Linked DNA regions of Homo sapiens: region 1 is linked to region 2. A link means that fine-mapping ties the variant in region 2 to the expression of a gene that starts in the linked region. Tissue or cell type: whole blood. Region 2 holds a variant in brackets; the other region holds the start of a gene. All regions are shown on one strand. Distances are from middle to middle.

The links. PIP is the estimated chance that this variant, and not a neighbour inherited with it, causes the effect.
Region 1: it holds the start of SPON1, and the variant in region 2 is fine-mapped to the expression of SPON1 in whole blood (INTERVAL, PIP above 0.99).

What each region holds. Positions count from the first base shown.
Region 1 is chr11:13,959,262-13,967,444 of GRCh38, reverse strand. SPON1 (spondin 1) reads right to left here and starts at 4,722. Exons shown (of 16, transcript NM_006108.4): 1 at 4,303-4,722. The coding sequence starts at 4,540. LOC124902637 (a long non-coding RNA gene) reads right to left here and starts at 4,288. Exons shown (of 2, transcript XR_007062602.1): 1 at 2,400-4,288; 2 at 1-404. RefSeq lists an enhancer at 919-1,437.
Region 2 is chr11:14,002,237-14,010,419 of GRCh38, reverse strand. All of the region lies in intron 2 of SPON1 (spondin 1), which reads right to left. Among named protein-coding and RNA genes, the nearest start is that of SPON1, 44 kb to the right of the region's middle. The variant T/C (reference allele first, on the strand shown) is at 4,008.

The DNA of each region.
Region 1 (8,183 bases), 43 kb after region 2:
ATTAATCCTCTAGTTTATGGGGAAATGCAACACTGAAGCCAATAAGAGAAAACAGCAAATGTGAATAAGGATTTATCACTTTATATTACTTTGTAGTAATATAAAGTAATTCTCCTGAGAGATGTCAGTTACTATCTTGATTTGTTGTTCTGTTTTCCTTGAAGGAAGGCTCACCATCCAGAAGGCTGAGGGTAGCTGAGTGAATTTCATTCTATTCCCAACTAATTTCATTGAGTCAGCACATAAGACTGGTTAAGAGCACAGATTTAGGAGTCAGACAGACCTGAGACTGTATCCTGATTCTGCTGATTATTAGCTGTGTGACCATGGATAAGGAATAAACTTCTCTGAGGTTTAGTCTTCTCATCCATAAAACAGTAACGATCAGAAACTTCCTCAAAGTACTGTAAGGAATAAGTGAGATGAGTCGGAAGAACTTAACACAATATCTTATCCAGGGCTTTGCTGCTAAGTATTTTTCTATTTCCAAAATAATCATCTCATAACATATTTTTTTAGCAACCACTGTGTGACAATTTCTTTTGACATGAATTATTTCTAATTCTCACAGGAATGCTGGGAAAAAATCAAAACACCCTCATTTTACAGATGGAGAAATTGGCTCAGAGAGGTGAAGTGGCTTCCTGAGATCACACAGTGAATATGTGACCAAGGAGGACCTGAAACCAACCCACCCAACATCAAAGCCTGTGCGCTTTCCACCAGGCTGAGGTGTCCACCCCTGTGGTCAGTGTGTGTCTCAGTGTGGGACAAAGGAAAAACCATGCAGCTTTGGAGGTCTCCAAACCTCCCAGTTTAGGATAAACCCCTCAATTATGCTTGAAGTTGGACCAGCTTTTGAAACCTCTACTGGACATTCTTTTCCCATCAAGTTCCTTGAAATGTCTCTTTAAAATACATCTAGGAAAAGCCACTCTCATTAGCCAGAGTCTGACTTTATTTTCCTAATAAACAGACCTCCAGTAAGACAAAAGAGCCTCTTTTATTTTCAATCAATTCTTGAATATTTCAGTGGATTTTCTTCTGTTTGGCTTGAAATTGTGATCTGGGAAAGGCTGGTCCTGCGAATTGTCCTCCTGTATAAGGGAAGCCCCTTGAGGATCCTCAACTTGTTATTTTTAATCACTGTAATCTCCTTTTCAAAGGAGGCCCTGGCCAGAAACAGAGCAGGCCTTTCAGAGCTTTCTAAAGCACAATTATTGCCGTTGGAGGGAGGGGGGACTGTGGGAAGAGGGAGGGAGAGTAGAGAGAAGTGGTGGGAAAGAAAAGGAAATCAATATAATACTAACAACTTGGAAAAGACAAAATAATGATCTCAACTGGATTCAGGTTTTGGGGAAGAAACTCCATGTTTCAGTCTTTTTTAATAGTGACCATTTTATTCCGGTCTAGAGTACCTAAAGACTGTACTTAGACAGCAGGCACAAAGAACAGAAGCTGCTTGGGGATGAACTGGAATACTGTGGACAAAGATTTGAGGCAGGAAAACAAGTCATTGATTCCAAGGATTGTGAGGAATCCTAATTCATGAAAAAATTAAAAAGCAAATAGAACACCAGGGGAATGCCAGCTTCACAGCCTTAAGTCAGGACAATGAGCAGAATGTGTTTGAGTTACTTTTAACATAATTATTCTAAGAAAGAAGGAGCCAACAGAAAATGTCACAAACTAGGCCAGTACCTTTTCTTTCGGACTTTGAGTGGCAGAATCAGGTTTGCTAATTGCAGGATATTTACTTGGAAAACCTCAGCATGGTTCCTGCAAGATCTCTTCCAAGGTCTTTTAGCCATAAGAAGGGAGAAAAGATGATTGCCCAATCTATAGCCTGAGTTGGGGTGTCAAAGTCCAGATGGCTGTTTAGGCAGGAGTAGCCTGTAGGGTGAAAGTCCAGGACACTCCCTATCCAGTCCCAGTTCCCCACCTGCTGGCCCTGGACGTTTAGGTAGTTCTGAAACCTCTTTGGCCCCGTGAATACCAGCTGTATCTCCTTCCCAGTGCTAGGGCCACCAGCTGCCAATGCTCAACTAAAACACGGAGGATTAGTGTGAAAAGAGACGCTGGGTACACTTGGCCTGAACCTCAGACTAGTCTAAGTCACTGAAAAAATCTTCCTGGGCTTGCATTAGCAACAGTCTTAGGCAAGGCTCCTGATATGAAAAAATACCTCATTCATTCATTCAATTAATTCATGAGGACCCAAATAACCACTGGTAGATGAATGGGACTGGAGGAGAGCTGAGGAAACCTGCTTTCAAACGCACAACACTCTTCAAAAACAAAAATCTGATCAAGAACCTACCTCCATTAGTAAACCAATAAAGGCCTCACATTCAACTGTTAGGCTTATTAGGAATCTCTTTTAGCTCAGGCACACTCACCTTTGTAAACTCATTTACTCCCTACCACCAAGAGAGGGTGGATAAACAGCTTTTTTTTTTTTCCAGCTAGGAAATAGGTGCAGAGAAATTAAATGACTTGCACAAGGTCACACAGCGAGTAAACCCAAGTCTGTTGGACTCCAGAGCCACTTCTTTCTCTGCTACGTGGAGCGGGGACAGTTTCCCCTGTGAACTCAGGTCCTCAGTTTTGGGGAGGGCCGAATAGGCCACTGAAGTCATACCCGCTTCCCTGCGGTCCACAGGGAGGATCGGCCGCCTCCCGGCTGCACCGAGTGGCAGTCGCCGCCCGTCGGCGCGGCTCGCTCTAGCCGCGGTGCCAAGCCGCGCGCTCCCTCCCGGGCTGGGCGGGGTGTTCTCCGCCCAGAATCTTTCTTCGTGGAGTACCCAGGATCCCGCGGAGCTGCGCGCCGGGGTCAGACTGTTCCTCGCAAAGTGCTCAGCACGCCAAGGTGCCAAGGGCACCAAGGAGCCGGCTTTGGGTAGCTCCGGGTGGAGAAAGTCGGGGACACAAACCCGGGAAAGGGGGAAAAGCGCTCCAAGAAGGGTGGCCCCTGGCTTTGGTCTCCGGCGTGACCCTGGCGCCCGCTGACGCTGCCCCAGACTTTCTCCTGTGTTGCTCCCACCGCTTCCGTCCAAGGCTCTCTGGGGAACTGGGAAGGCGAGGAGGAAAGTACAGCAGCTGGGAGCCCATTTGCCCCACCAGGTGCCCCAGTGACCCGCTCATCCCTGCTTAGCACCAGAGCTGACTTATGAAGGGGCGAGGGTGAGAGGACACGCTCCCTGGCGGGAGCTAAGGTGAGGCCAGACAGGCTCGCTTCCCTTCCTGGTTACCTGTCCCCCACCCGGAGAGCGGCTGCTGCTGCACGGGGAAACGATGTCTGGGGAGATGACCCTGCTGAGGAGCGAGGTGGCGGGCGTGGGGACAGAGTCAGGCGTCTTCAGATCGGTGCTGGTCGAACTGCCTGTCCCGCCTAGGAGGCTCTCACCTGCTTGGACACCTCCTCCCTGAGCTCCCGAAACCCCACTCTCAGCCGAGCGGCGTAGGCGCGACATCCCTGGGACGTGGAGACTCCGAGCTGCCGGAGCCAAGGTTCCCCGGCCTCCAGGGAGCAGGCCTCGGGCATCGGGGCTTCTCTTTCCATCTTCATCCAATTCCCCTTGCAGCTCGGAGCTTACCCCAAGCTCTTTGAGGACCCTGTCCCCACTGGGAACCTGTTCTGGAAACCCAAGATACTCTATCTCGTCTGGGACCACGAGAGAATAATTTGGGGTTCTTTCCAAGGACCCTTTCGAGGAGCTTTAGGCTGTCCCTGCCCCTCCTTCCCGCACCCCGGGACCGGTTAGGGAGAAGCCAAAGTCCCTTCTCCTGAAGGGACCTATCCAGGGAAGCCGGAGTGGCTGTCCCGCCCAGGGCCAGTCTTTGAGAATCGGGTACCCTCTCCTTCAGGGACTGAGCGGGGAAAGCTGGAGTGGCTGCCTTGCCCGGGACCCGACCAAGAGAAGCCTGGGTCCCCTCCAGACCGATTTGGAGAAAGGCAGTTTTACTTCCCTCCTGCAGACGGCCGGGGGAGAAGCGAGCCTCCCTTGCAGTCAGGCCGGCGTGACGTGTGGCTCAGTTACATCCTCCGCCTGGGAACCGCGCGTCGGAAACGCGGGGTGCCTCTCCTGGCTGCGGCCCCCGCGACGGCCCGGGACGCTGGATTATGATCCGCGCCGAGCTCGCGACTGCAAGGGCCGAGGGCAGCCAGGACAGAAGGGCCCTTGCCGGGCTGCACCCGCGCCACGCGCCCGGAGACCGCGCGCCCTCCTCCGGCACCGCGAGGTCGGCGCCCTCCGGGGACCGGGTCCCGCTCTCCTAATGCCACGCCGGGCGGCCACTTACCGCGGTAGCTGGTTCCCGGCTTGTAGAAGTCGGGGTCGCCCTCCACGCGGAGGCTGAACTCGGTGTAGCCCTCGCGCCGCGTGCCCTGGGCGCGCAGGATACGGCTGCAGTAGCCCTCTGACTTGGGCACTTTGTCCAGGGTCTCGTCGGAGAAGGCCAGCGCCGCGGCCAGGGGCAGCGCCAGGGCCAGCAGTGCCGGAGTCCGGCTCAGCTTCAGGGGCGCCGGGGACAGCCTCATCTTCGCGGCCCCCAACTTTGTGCCGCGGCCGCAGGCCTTCGCCACGCGACTCCTGCCCGAAGTGGTCCCGACGAAGGCGCGACCTGGCGGAGGCGCGGCGGAGAGAGGGAGCTCGGAGCTGGCGTCCGCGACTCGGAGACCGTGCCCGCCTCGGCTTGGCGGCCGCGGAGCTGCGCTGAGCTGAGCTGAGCTGAGCCAAGCGAACGAGAGCAGCGCGAGGAGGGGAGGGCCGCGGCGAAGGAGCGGGAGGAGGGAGGGCTGATTTTGCCCAGATCCCCCAGCGCAGCGCTGTTTTGTTTCCTCCGAACTGGCGATTAGCGGCGCGGCCGTGTTTATTTTGCGACGTTGGATTCCCAGGGTCTGACGAAGAAACCGTGGCATACCGGACCCTGTGGGCTCTGTCCCATCGCCTAGGAGGCTGCTGCTCCAACCCCCAGCTACACTCCGGACCCTCTGGAGGACGGCGCTCAGAGGAGGGAAAGCCTGAGAAATAACTTTTGTTGCACACCTGCTCTGTGCCTAGCAATATGCTTGGCGGCTTACTTACTGTATCGACTCGCCTTCATGTTCCCTACTCCCAATAAAGATTACATTACTTTCGCTCACTTTATAGATGAGCAAACTGTGACTTGCGACCAGTTACAGCAGGGTTAGATGCGGCGACTCCGGGCCCATTGCTCTTCCCAAGGCCATAGTGGAACATGTCAGACTGGAGGCTGAGAAAGGAGAAACGACTTAGCTACAGCGCTTAGGGCCCACGATACTTTTGGAGATCTATGAAAATGTTTTCTGTAAAAATCAGAAGAAAAAATTTATGTCAAACAAAATGTTTTACTATATAATGTTAATATATTTGTATTTATACCTCCACAGTCATAAAATATGCTTGACTTGGAGGAAAGAGCCAGCAAAGGCAAAAGTGCCTAAGGCTCAGGAAGGTCCTCCTACAGCCCAGGAAAGGAGTTTCCAAAGATTCAATGAAGAGCCTGTGTTTTCTTGGCTTACATTTTAGTTCAGATTCTCACTCCCCAGGGACAGATGTTCAGAGAGGTGCTGAGCCTGAGGGCCTGAAGGGAAAAGACCTGGGGCAAGAATCTCTCCCAGTGTCTCTCTGGGAAGAGACCCGAATCAAACCTCAGTCCTGCCACTCACCCATTGTGAAGCTTGGGCTAGTTATCGCACTCTCCAAGCTTGTTTCCTGCTCTGGAGAACAAGGAAGTGGGGGTGGGTGCCAGTACATCCTTCTTAGAGGTAGTGGGGTGATATGCTAGAAGTAAATGATATGACCCATATAAAACACTCTAGTTGGTCTCTAGTGGCGCCTGCTCCCTCACCCGCTTGGGGATACCATAAGCCCCCTGCCTCTCAGTGCACACAAACATCCCTCCCCAGGTGCCCTCAGAAGCTTTGGTTTCCTCGTCTTCTCTTTGCCCAGGGCCTTCGACACACCTCAAGTGCCTACAATTAGCAAGCAATCTCCTTTGCTTTCCAGGTCAGGGTTTTCTCTTTCATAATGCTACAAACAGGCCCAGGGCGCTAGGTGCATGGGAGATCTCCATTCCTCCCTGCCTGCCCACTTACTCCTTAGTGCTTGTGCTGGAATTCCCACTGCCACTATTAACTGGACGCCTTCTCTCAGAGGTCACCTGAAAGTAACCCCTTGCTGAAGCCAATTATGCTCTTCTCTCATCCCTAGCCCTTCTTGACCCTAGCAGCACCTGATCCAGCTGATCGGCCCTCCTTTTTGAGGTGAGGCTCAGATCCATGTCTGAGTGCTGAGGGAATTGTCTGCATCTTCACTCGACTGGCTCAGAGCTCATGCTGCACTCCAAGTTGCACGGTCCCATTCATCCAGCAAACTTTCATTAAGTGTAGATTTGGAGCTAGACTCTGTGCTGACCGGTAGGTAGAAGACGGAACAAAAATTCATCCATCCATCCATCCATGCATCCTTCTATCCATCCATTCATTCATGACAAAGACCCTCCACGTGCTCAGTGCTTGGATACAAAACACAGATATGTTACTTGCCTTTGAGGATTTTACAGGCCTGTGGCAAAGGCAAATATTAAATACATAATTATATGAATCTTTTAAAATTATAATTGTGATGTATGCTACAAACTAAAATAAGTGGTTCTTGAAAGTGTACCTGATCTTATCTCAGAGGGCAGGAAACTACAGAAATGAATAAATTGTGACCCCTGTCTTCACAAAGCTTATTTTATGTCTGAAAGCTCAAATCTGTGCTCTTGAACCTCTATTCATCTACAAAAGGTTCAAATCTAAGTTGGAGATGGGTGGGCATGAAGTAGGCAGGAATGCAATATTTAACTTTTTATTGGATATTGACAGGAAAACTATGGGAAGTAGGCAGTCCCAATTCACCTCCGCACTCCCATTGTTCAGATTAGGAGCCTATGAAATTACCTGCTGAGGTAATGTTCCATGGCTATTAAGGGAAAGAGCCAGGATTTAAAACAGGCATCCCCAACACCAAATGAGGTACTTTCCAGTACACAGTGTTCGCCCTATCATCTGGGCTATGACGGCAGGCTCTAACCAGCTCACCAAGCTCCAATCCCACTACATGAGCTAGGTTTTCCTAAACCAGCTTGGCTGTCACTCAGACCTCTGCTGTCTTCTCCACTCATCCGATCCATCACCACATCAAGTTTCACGCTCTTCTCCACCACTACCCCTGTCTGTGTTGACATCCTCTCTCATCTTCCTAACTGGGTTGCCCTTGTCTACTTGTGCTCTCCTTCCATCTGTCTTCTGCACTGAAGCCCAAGTGATCTTTTTAAAAATGCAGATTTGAATGTCAATCCTGAGGTTAACATTTTTTCTTGGTGGTTTTTCAGGGCTCTCAGAATAAAGACAGAATCTTCAGCCAGGCCTCCAAGGCTCTGCTTGATCTGCTTCTCCAGCCATGCAGCTCTTCTCTCATGGGCTTTGCCTGTGCTGTTCTCTCTGCCTGGAATCCTATCATGCTCTTTGGTCTCTCCTAGCCACCACTCTCCATTGGCCAACTCCTATGTACTCTTCAGATCTCAGTGCAAAACTGCCTCCCCAAAGAAGGCCTTTCTGATTTCCTAGAATAGATCCAGCCCCCAAAACTCTGCTGAAGCTCATGAGTACCTTTTCTTTTAATCTCCTCCTCCTCCTCCTCCTTCTTCTTCCTTCTTCCTCCTCCCTCTCCTCCTCCTCCTTCTTCTTTCTCCTTTCTCCTTTCCTCTTTCTTCTTTCTTCTTGAGGCAGGGTCTTCCTATGTTGCTCAGGTTGGTCTCAAACTCTTGGGCTCAAGCAATCTTCCTGCCTCAGCCTCCCAAAGTGTTGGGACTACAGGCATGAGCCACCACACCTGGCTTCTTTTAATATTAAGATTTATAATGACCCATTGATTTATAAGTTTGATGTTTAAAATTTTACATTTGTTCAGTATTTGTCTCCATTCTAAATTCTAAGCTCCAGAAGGGTAGGGGATGTCTATGGGGCTTACCACTGTATTTTCCGTGCACATCGTAGTGCCCGGCCCCTGGTAGGGGTTCCATAAATATTTTTTCTCTGAATAAAAACTTTTTAACAAGCCTACCCTCAGTGCCTTCTGACTCTGCCCAAATTTTAAGACTTGGCCTCTAAG
Region 2 (8,183 bases):
CTCTACACTTAGCTCATCTTTTTTTAATCTGTGGGTCTTCCTTTCTGAGCTCCCAGTCTGCCCTTAATCCCATCCCCCTCTCATCTCTAGACATGAATCCTCTTATATGGCCCATCTTTTGCATCTACTACAGGGTTGCCAACCACCTAAGTCTAGATATCCAGCCTGCCCTCTGTCCTTAGCTCCCAGCCCAGATTCCCAAACAAGAGTGTACCTCTCCAGCTGAATTAGCTGTGGGGCCCTCCAACATGGGCAAAACTGAGTTGTGACCCTTCCACTAAACCTTCTCCTCCTGCAACTGATCTCAGCCTTGCCATTATTCCATTATCCCTTCATTTGTTCCTGCAGTGCATACCTATTGAGCATCTCTGTGTGTCAGACAGTATGCTAAGCACTGGGAATATAGTGGCCCCTGTCCTCATTTGATGGGAAAGACAGACATTGATACAGTCTGAATGTTGACAGCCCCCTCCATCAAGTTCTTATGTTGAATCTAATAGCCAATGTGATAGTATTAAGTGGTGGAACCTTTGGGAAGTGATTAAGTGATGAGGGCTCCACCCTCATAAATGGAATTAGTGTCCTTATAAAAGAGACCTGAGTGAGCTCTCTTACCCTTCCTCCACATGAAGATGCAGCAAGAAGGTGCCATGTATGGGGAACAGGCCCTTACCAGACAACAAATCTGCTGGTGCCTTGATCTTGGACTGCTCAGCCTCCAGAATTGTAAGCAATAAATTCTGTTGTTTGTAAATCACTGAGTCTAAGATATTTTGTTATAGCAGTCTGAATGGACTAAGACAGACATGAATCAAATAGTCACCAAATATGAACACAGTTCTTACTGGGAAATTTCTATGACAGATATATGTGCAACGAGAACATAACAGAGCATATAATGGTGCTAAGGAAAGATTTTCCAAGGAAGCAACTTGCTATATATGAGCTGAGATCTGAAGGCTGAGTGGTATTTATTAGGAAAAGTTGGGTTGGGGCAGAGGGGAATGTTCTAAACAATGAGGAAACATTTCTCTACACATACCCTGGGGCAGGAGAAAACTGGGAGCGTTCATAGAAGACCAATGTGTCTAGAGCTCAGGGAACAAGGGAAGATGACACAAGATGAGGTGGAGAGATGAGTAGGGGTCAGGCCTTTCTGGGCCTTTTGGGCTGTTAAGGAACTTTGTCTTCCTCCTGAAATTAGTGATAAATTATGTGAATACCTTCAACAAACATTTATTGAACAGCTACTGTGTTTCTGGCCCTTTTCAAGATGATGAGGACACAGGGAACACATGAATGGAACTAAGTCCCTGACCTCATGGAGCTCACATACCAATCACACACAACTGAAGGCAGCTTAACAGAGCAATTGTGAGGTGCCAAAAATGGATGCAGAAAGGTTACTATGGTCGTCCAGGAGTATGTGATGACAGACTGGACTCATAGCAGGCTGAGAAGGGGAGAAGTTGGTGAATTAGAAAGACTTACAAGGTACCATCAGCAGGACTTAGTGATGGATTGGCCAGGGGGTGGAATTTTGTTTGTTGTAAGGTTTTTAAATTGTTCTTTTAAGAAGGAAAATTCCTGAAGGAAGAGTTTTAAAACTTGAGCTGAAGGGAAGGACCTTATCAAGAAGAAAAGGCTGACTCTACAAAACAAAGGTGGGGTGATTGGCCATTTAAGGTTCCTGAGGAAGCAGGAGAGAGTGGTATCCAGAGCCTGAGTAGAGATGGTCTCAGGACAGGGATGGAGAGATCCATTATTTTAGTAGGAGAAGAAGTGAGGAAAGATGCAGGTAGGTTTATTAACTTTAGCAACAAGTTAAGAAATTCTGGTCCAGGTCCAGGGATTTCTTTTTCTTTCTTTTCTTTTCCCCCCATAGAGAACACAACAAGGTCACTTGTTGAGAATGATGTGGGAAAAGTGATGTGACCCATAGGTGGGTCAGGAATGAAAGGAATCAGCATTAGGGAAAGTGGGAGGACAAGCCTTCCAGAGTAATTTGGTCAGATTGCCAGGCAGGTCAAGGGCCCTCCAAGGTCAGTGGTCCTGCATAAGTGTAAATGGTAGGAAGAAAAATGTCCCCGCGAAATACAATCATTCCTTGGTATTTGTCGGGGGTTGGTTCCAGCATCATCCTGTGAATATCAAAATCCACAGCTACTCCTCCCATATACTCCTTCTGTATACTTTAAAGCATCTCCAGATTACTTATAATATCTAATGTGATGTAATACTTTGTAAATAGTTGTTATACTGTATTTTTAAAATCTGTATTAATTTTTAATTTTTATTTTTCCAATATTTTTGGCTGAATCAGTGGATGCAGAACCTGCAGATACAAAGGGACTACTGCATGTTCACTTCTAATCCCCAGAAAGTGTGAATAGTACCTTATATGGCAAAAGATATGATTTATTTAAGGATCTTGAGAGGAGATGTTTATTCTAGACTATCTGGAAGCCTTAAATGCAATCATATGTATCCTTAAAAGAGAGTGGCAGAGGGAGCTTTGAGACAGAGACAAGGAGAAGGCCACGTGAGGATGGAGGCAGAGAGTAGAGTGATGCAGCCACACACAAGCCTGCTGACAGTCACCAGAAGCCGCAAGAGGCAAGGAACAAATCGTCCCTAGAGCAGGAGTCCCCAGCCCCCAGTCTGTGGCCTGTTAGGAGCTGGGCCACACAGCAGGAGATCGGGGTGAGCCAGCATTACCGCCTGAGCTTCACCTCCTGTGATGGTTAATACTGAGTGTCAACTTGATTGGATTGAAGGATGCAAAGTATTGACCCTGGGTGTGTCTGTGAGGGTGTTGCGAAAGGAGATTAACATTTGAGTCAGTGGACTGGGGAAGGCAGACCCACCCTTAATCTGGGTGGGCACCATCTAATCAGCTGTGTGGGCACCATCTAATTAGCTGTCAATGAATATAAAGCAGGCAGAAAATGTGAAAAGGAGAGACTGGCCTAGCCTCCCAGACTACATCTTTCTCCCATGCTGGATTCTTCCTATCCTTGAACATCAGACTCCAAGTTCTTCAGTTTTGGGACTTGGACTGGCTCTCCTTGCTCCTCAGCTTGCAGACAGCTGATTGTGGGACCCTGTGATTGTGTGAGTTAATTCTTAATAAATTCACATATATATCTCCTATCAGTTCTGTCCCTCTAGAAAACCCTAATACACCTCCTGTCAAGTAAGTGGCGGCATTCAATTCTCATAAAAGTGCAAACCCTATGGTGAACTGCACATGCAAGGGATCTAGGTTGTGTACTCCTTATGAGAATCTAATGCCTGATGATCTGAGGTAGAACAGTTTTATCCTGAAACCATTCCCCCTACTGCAGCCCATGGAAAAACTGTTCTCCAGGAAACTAGTCCCTGGTGCCAAAAAGGTTTGGGACCACTGCCCTAGAGCCCCCAGAGGGAGTGTGGTCCTGTTGACACCTTAATTTTGGCCCAGTGAGATGAATTTTGAATTTCTGGACCCCAGAATTGTAAGATAATTAAATTTCTGTTGTTTTAAGCCACCAAATGTGTGGCAATTTGTTACAGCAGCTCTAGGAAATTAGCATGATGTGAACTGGCCAATCTGCACTGAAATGTGACTTTTTCCAGGTGCAGGGCTCAGGTGTAAGCACAAAGAAGAGAAAAGATGTGTTCATTCAGGGCTGGAGTTTTGCTAGATTGGTGTGAGGACAAGAGGCAAAGAAGTTATGGGCTATGGCAGAAGTGTTACTGAGATGATGAGCTTAGCTAAGGAGGGAAGAGGAGAGAGGAGAGGGCAGTGGTGGGATGAGGAGACAGCAGAGGGTTCAATGGACCACCGGTCCACCACGTGCGACCAAGCAAAAAGCCTCAGAGTCCTACTCAGCCCCCTGCATTCAACTCATCAGTTGTTAGCTCTTTGATGTCTGTGGCATTCATCTCCTGATGAGCAGCCTTCCTGATCTCTCACTGGAGTTCATGCCACAATCTCCTACCCAGCCTTCCTGCCTCTGTTCTTA[T/C]CTTCTCCAAGCTCTTCCATATTGATGAGAGCTCTCTTCCTAAGTTGAAAATTTAATCATCATGTTGTTGCCTAATCTAAAACTCTTTGGTGTCCCTCTCCCCTTGCCAAAAAAAACCAAAAAACAATTTCTGCTAGCAGGTACTAAAAGGATAAAGCCCATAGTCCCAAACTGGCGTGGAAGGGCATTTAGATGACAATTCATTAGTTTCATCTCAAGCCCTAACCTTGCACTAGCAATCCAGAACTCCTTGTCATTCCCAGATTATAGCTCACTTTTCCTTACCCTGTCCCATTATTCATGCTCTGCCGAGACTGCTCTTTCTATAGCCCTTGAGATTCAGTTAAAGATCAGCTTCTCTAATGTTACCCTAATAATAATTACTAATGTTTATTAAGTACTGGTATGTTAGACATCATGTTAATTGATTTTCCTAGGATGATCTCATTTGATTCACCCTCCAAAGTGGGTAATATTATTATTCCCCTTTTCCAAGCAGGAAGAAACCGAGCCTTAGAGAGGTCATAGAGCAGAATTGTAGATTCAGGATTTGAACCCAGGTCTCTCAGGCTCTAGAGTTGAACTTTCAACAGTCTATAACATTCTATTGAATGACCCTAAGTCCAGAAGCCCTTTGTGCATAGCCTGAAGGCATTGAGATCAGAATTATGAATGTTATAATAATACTTAGCAACTTACTATGTGCCAAGGACTCTAATGATCATCTTTACAGCTTTGACATCTTTATTATTTGTTTTTCAGACAGAGAAACAAAGGTTAAAAGAGTTAAAGTTACACAGCAAGAGTAGAACAGGGGCTTACATTCCCTCTGTCTAATTTGAAAAGCCCCAGGCTTAATTTACCTTAATTTAGCCCAGGGTCTAGAACATCAAAGTGGGCCACAAATCTCAACGTGGAGCATGAATGGGAGTCATTATCACGCAGATGGTACTCAAAGCCATGGAACGGATGAGTCTAATTGTGCAGAGAAAGGACAGAAAAGGTTACAGGACAGAGTTTGGAGAGTGCATCATTTAGAGAAGCAGATCTCAATGGGGATGATCTTGTTCTCTAGGGGACATCAGAATCAGACAATATCTGGAAACATTTTTGGTTATCACAACTGGTGGGGCCAGGGGCCAGGGGTGCTGCCAACCATCCCAGAGGACACAGGGCAGCTGCCAACAACAAAGAATTATCTGGCTCAGAAATCATAAATCTCCTAGAAGAGAAAATAGCAGAAAACCTCCTCAACATTGGCCTTTGTAATAATTTTTTTGGATATCACACCAACAGTTCATGCTACAAAAATAAAATAAATAAATGGAACTACATGAAACTAAAAACCTTCTTCACAGCAAAGGAAACAAACAACAAAATGAAAAGGCATAGCCTGGGCAACACAGTGAGACTCCATCTCTAAAAAAATTTTTTTTAAATCATCCAGACATAGTGGCATGCACCTGTAGTCCCAACTACTCAGGAGACCCAGGCAGGAGGATCACTTGAGCCCAGGAGTTTGGGGCTGCAGTGAGCTATTATTATGCCACTGCACTCCAGCCTGGGTGACAGAGTGAGACCCTGTCTCACACAGAAAAAAGAAAGAAAGAAAAGGAAAACTACGAACTGAAAAAACAAACAAACAAAAAACTGCATTTCACATATCTGATAAGGAGTTAATATCTAAAATTTGTAAATAACTGTTAAAACTCAATAGCAGAAAAACAAAAAAACCCAACTAAAAAATGGGCAAATAACCTGAACAGACATTTTTTCCAAAGACAATATAAAAATGGCCAACAGGTATATGAAAAGGTGTTCAACATCATTAATCATCAGGGAAATGCAAATTAAAACCACTATAAGATATTATCTCACATCCATAAGGATAGCTATTATCAAAAAGACAAGAGATAGCAAATGTTGGTAAGGGTCTGGAGAAAAGGTAACCCTGTATGCTGTTGATGGAAACGTAGATTGGTATAGCCATGGTGGAAAATGGTATGGAGGTTCCTCAACTAAAAATAAACTATCATATGATACAGCAATCCGACTTCTGGGTATTTACCTAGAGGAGATAAACTCACTACCTCATAAAGACACCTGTGGACCCATGTTCATTGCAACATTATTAACAATAGCCAGGATATGGAAACGACCTAAATGTCCATGTTCATTTGGGAAAAGAAAATGTAGGAAATGTACAAATGGGGAAAGAACATGTACACGTGTGTGTGTGTGTATGTGTGTGTGTGTGTCTGTGTGTGTAATGGAATATTATTCAGCCTAGAACAGAAAGAGATCTTGCCATTCTCCACAACAAAGATGGACCTGGAAGACATTATGCTAAGTGAAGTAAGCCAGAAAGAGAAAGAAAAATATTGCATGATCTCTCTTATATGTGAAACATTTTTTTAAAAAAAGAGCTCAAATATGCAGAGATAGATAAGGGAGTGATTATCAAAGGGGGTAGAGAAGGAAAAAATAGGAAGATGTAAGTCAAAGGATACAAAATAACAGTTATATAGGATGAACAAGTCTAGAGATCTAATGTATAGCATGAGGATGAAAAATTGTATTACGGATTTTGGTTAAGTAGATTTTAGTTGCCCTTGTCACAAAAAAAGTAACTATGTGCAATGATGGATGTTAACCTACTTCACTGCAGTAACCATTTTACTATCTATATATATATCATTATGTATACTATCTATACATAACATTATGTTGTAAACCTCAAATATGGCCCAAATGCCAATAGTGCTTATGTAGGTCCCTTCAGCTCTCCCGCTTTCTTTCTGTGTCTTGATAGAAAATCACAGAGTGCCTTGACCACTCTGTGACCCAGCCAAATGTGGGTTATTCCCAGCAGGCTTAATCCCAAACTGGGGCCTTGAACATTCCCAGACACTGACAAAGGTATCTAGATTGTTGCCTAAAACACTGAAAGAAACTGGCCCCATCCCTGAGCCAAACTCCTTAAACCCTCATAAAAACTCCATACCCTGGACCCCTCACTGCATTTGTGCCTGGGCAGAACATCCCTTTTCTCTCGCTGTTCGGTGCAGGGATCACTGCAGCACTTCTGTAAGTAAGTTCCCCTAATAAATGTTTTGGACTGATCTCACTGGTGCTTAGTGCTCCTTTCTTTGGAATCCCAACCAGCCCCACTTCAGGATAGTGTGTTGCACTTTCTTGTGTGGGAACTCCCCTGCTGCCACTTTTTGGGGCAAAATACATAAAACCAGAAAGACATGAGAAGAGAATATTCTAGGAATCAGGGAGTGGTCAGCTCCCTCTGCGATACTGAGGAATGTGTGCAAGATGATGGAGTGTGCACGGACAACGCGGAGGCCATTGCAGAAACTGTCAAGACTCAAGAGCCATTTTGGTGGGGGTCGAGAAGTGAACAACAGCAGAGAAGTGGGTAAAACATGTGTAGGCACAACTCTCTTGAAGTGCTTGGCTGTCGAGGTGGGGCAGAGAAATGAGGTAGTGGTTGGAGGAGATGTGGGGTCCTAGGACTTTGGGGTTTTTTAAAAAAATTATAGGTAGATAGTAGAGGTACTATCTTCCTGGCCAACTTGAACCCCTGACCAGCTTTCTCAACAGTGCCCTGGTTCCCTGATTCTCTCTCCCCTTGGTGGATGCCTGTGCCCCCTATCTTCTACTGTGTTTGGGGTTTTCCAGTTCTGGGAAAACTGTACCATCTGTCTGCTTGGCTCCTGCCACCAGGCTCTTGGGAGTTGATGAAGAAAGTTACAAATCCAATCTCAAAGTCTCCTCTAGGAATATGTGTTTTCTAAACTGGGTCTCTGCTGCTACACGATCCTTCCATCCATCTCTCATGGACTCCCTACCACATTCCTCCTGCACTTGCTCCATCTCCCCAGTCTTCAGCCCTGTCCTTTCCCTCTGCAGATCAGCTTGCCTCTGTCTACTTGAAAAACATTTGTTGACTGTGTTTCAGGTCAGTCACTAATCAACATGCTTATGTGTTTCTTAAGGTGCTCTTTGGGGCACTTGTGTCAGATTCACATAAGATGCTTATAAAAGATGCAGGGTCCGCAGCCCCAGTTCCTCACCCCCTTAGGTGCACAGAATCAGATTCTCTGACTTGGGGCCCAGAGAGATGAATTACAAACAAGTATCCAGGAGATTCTGATGTTCATTACC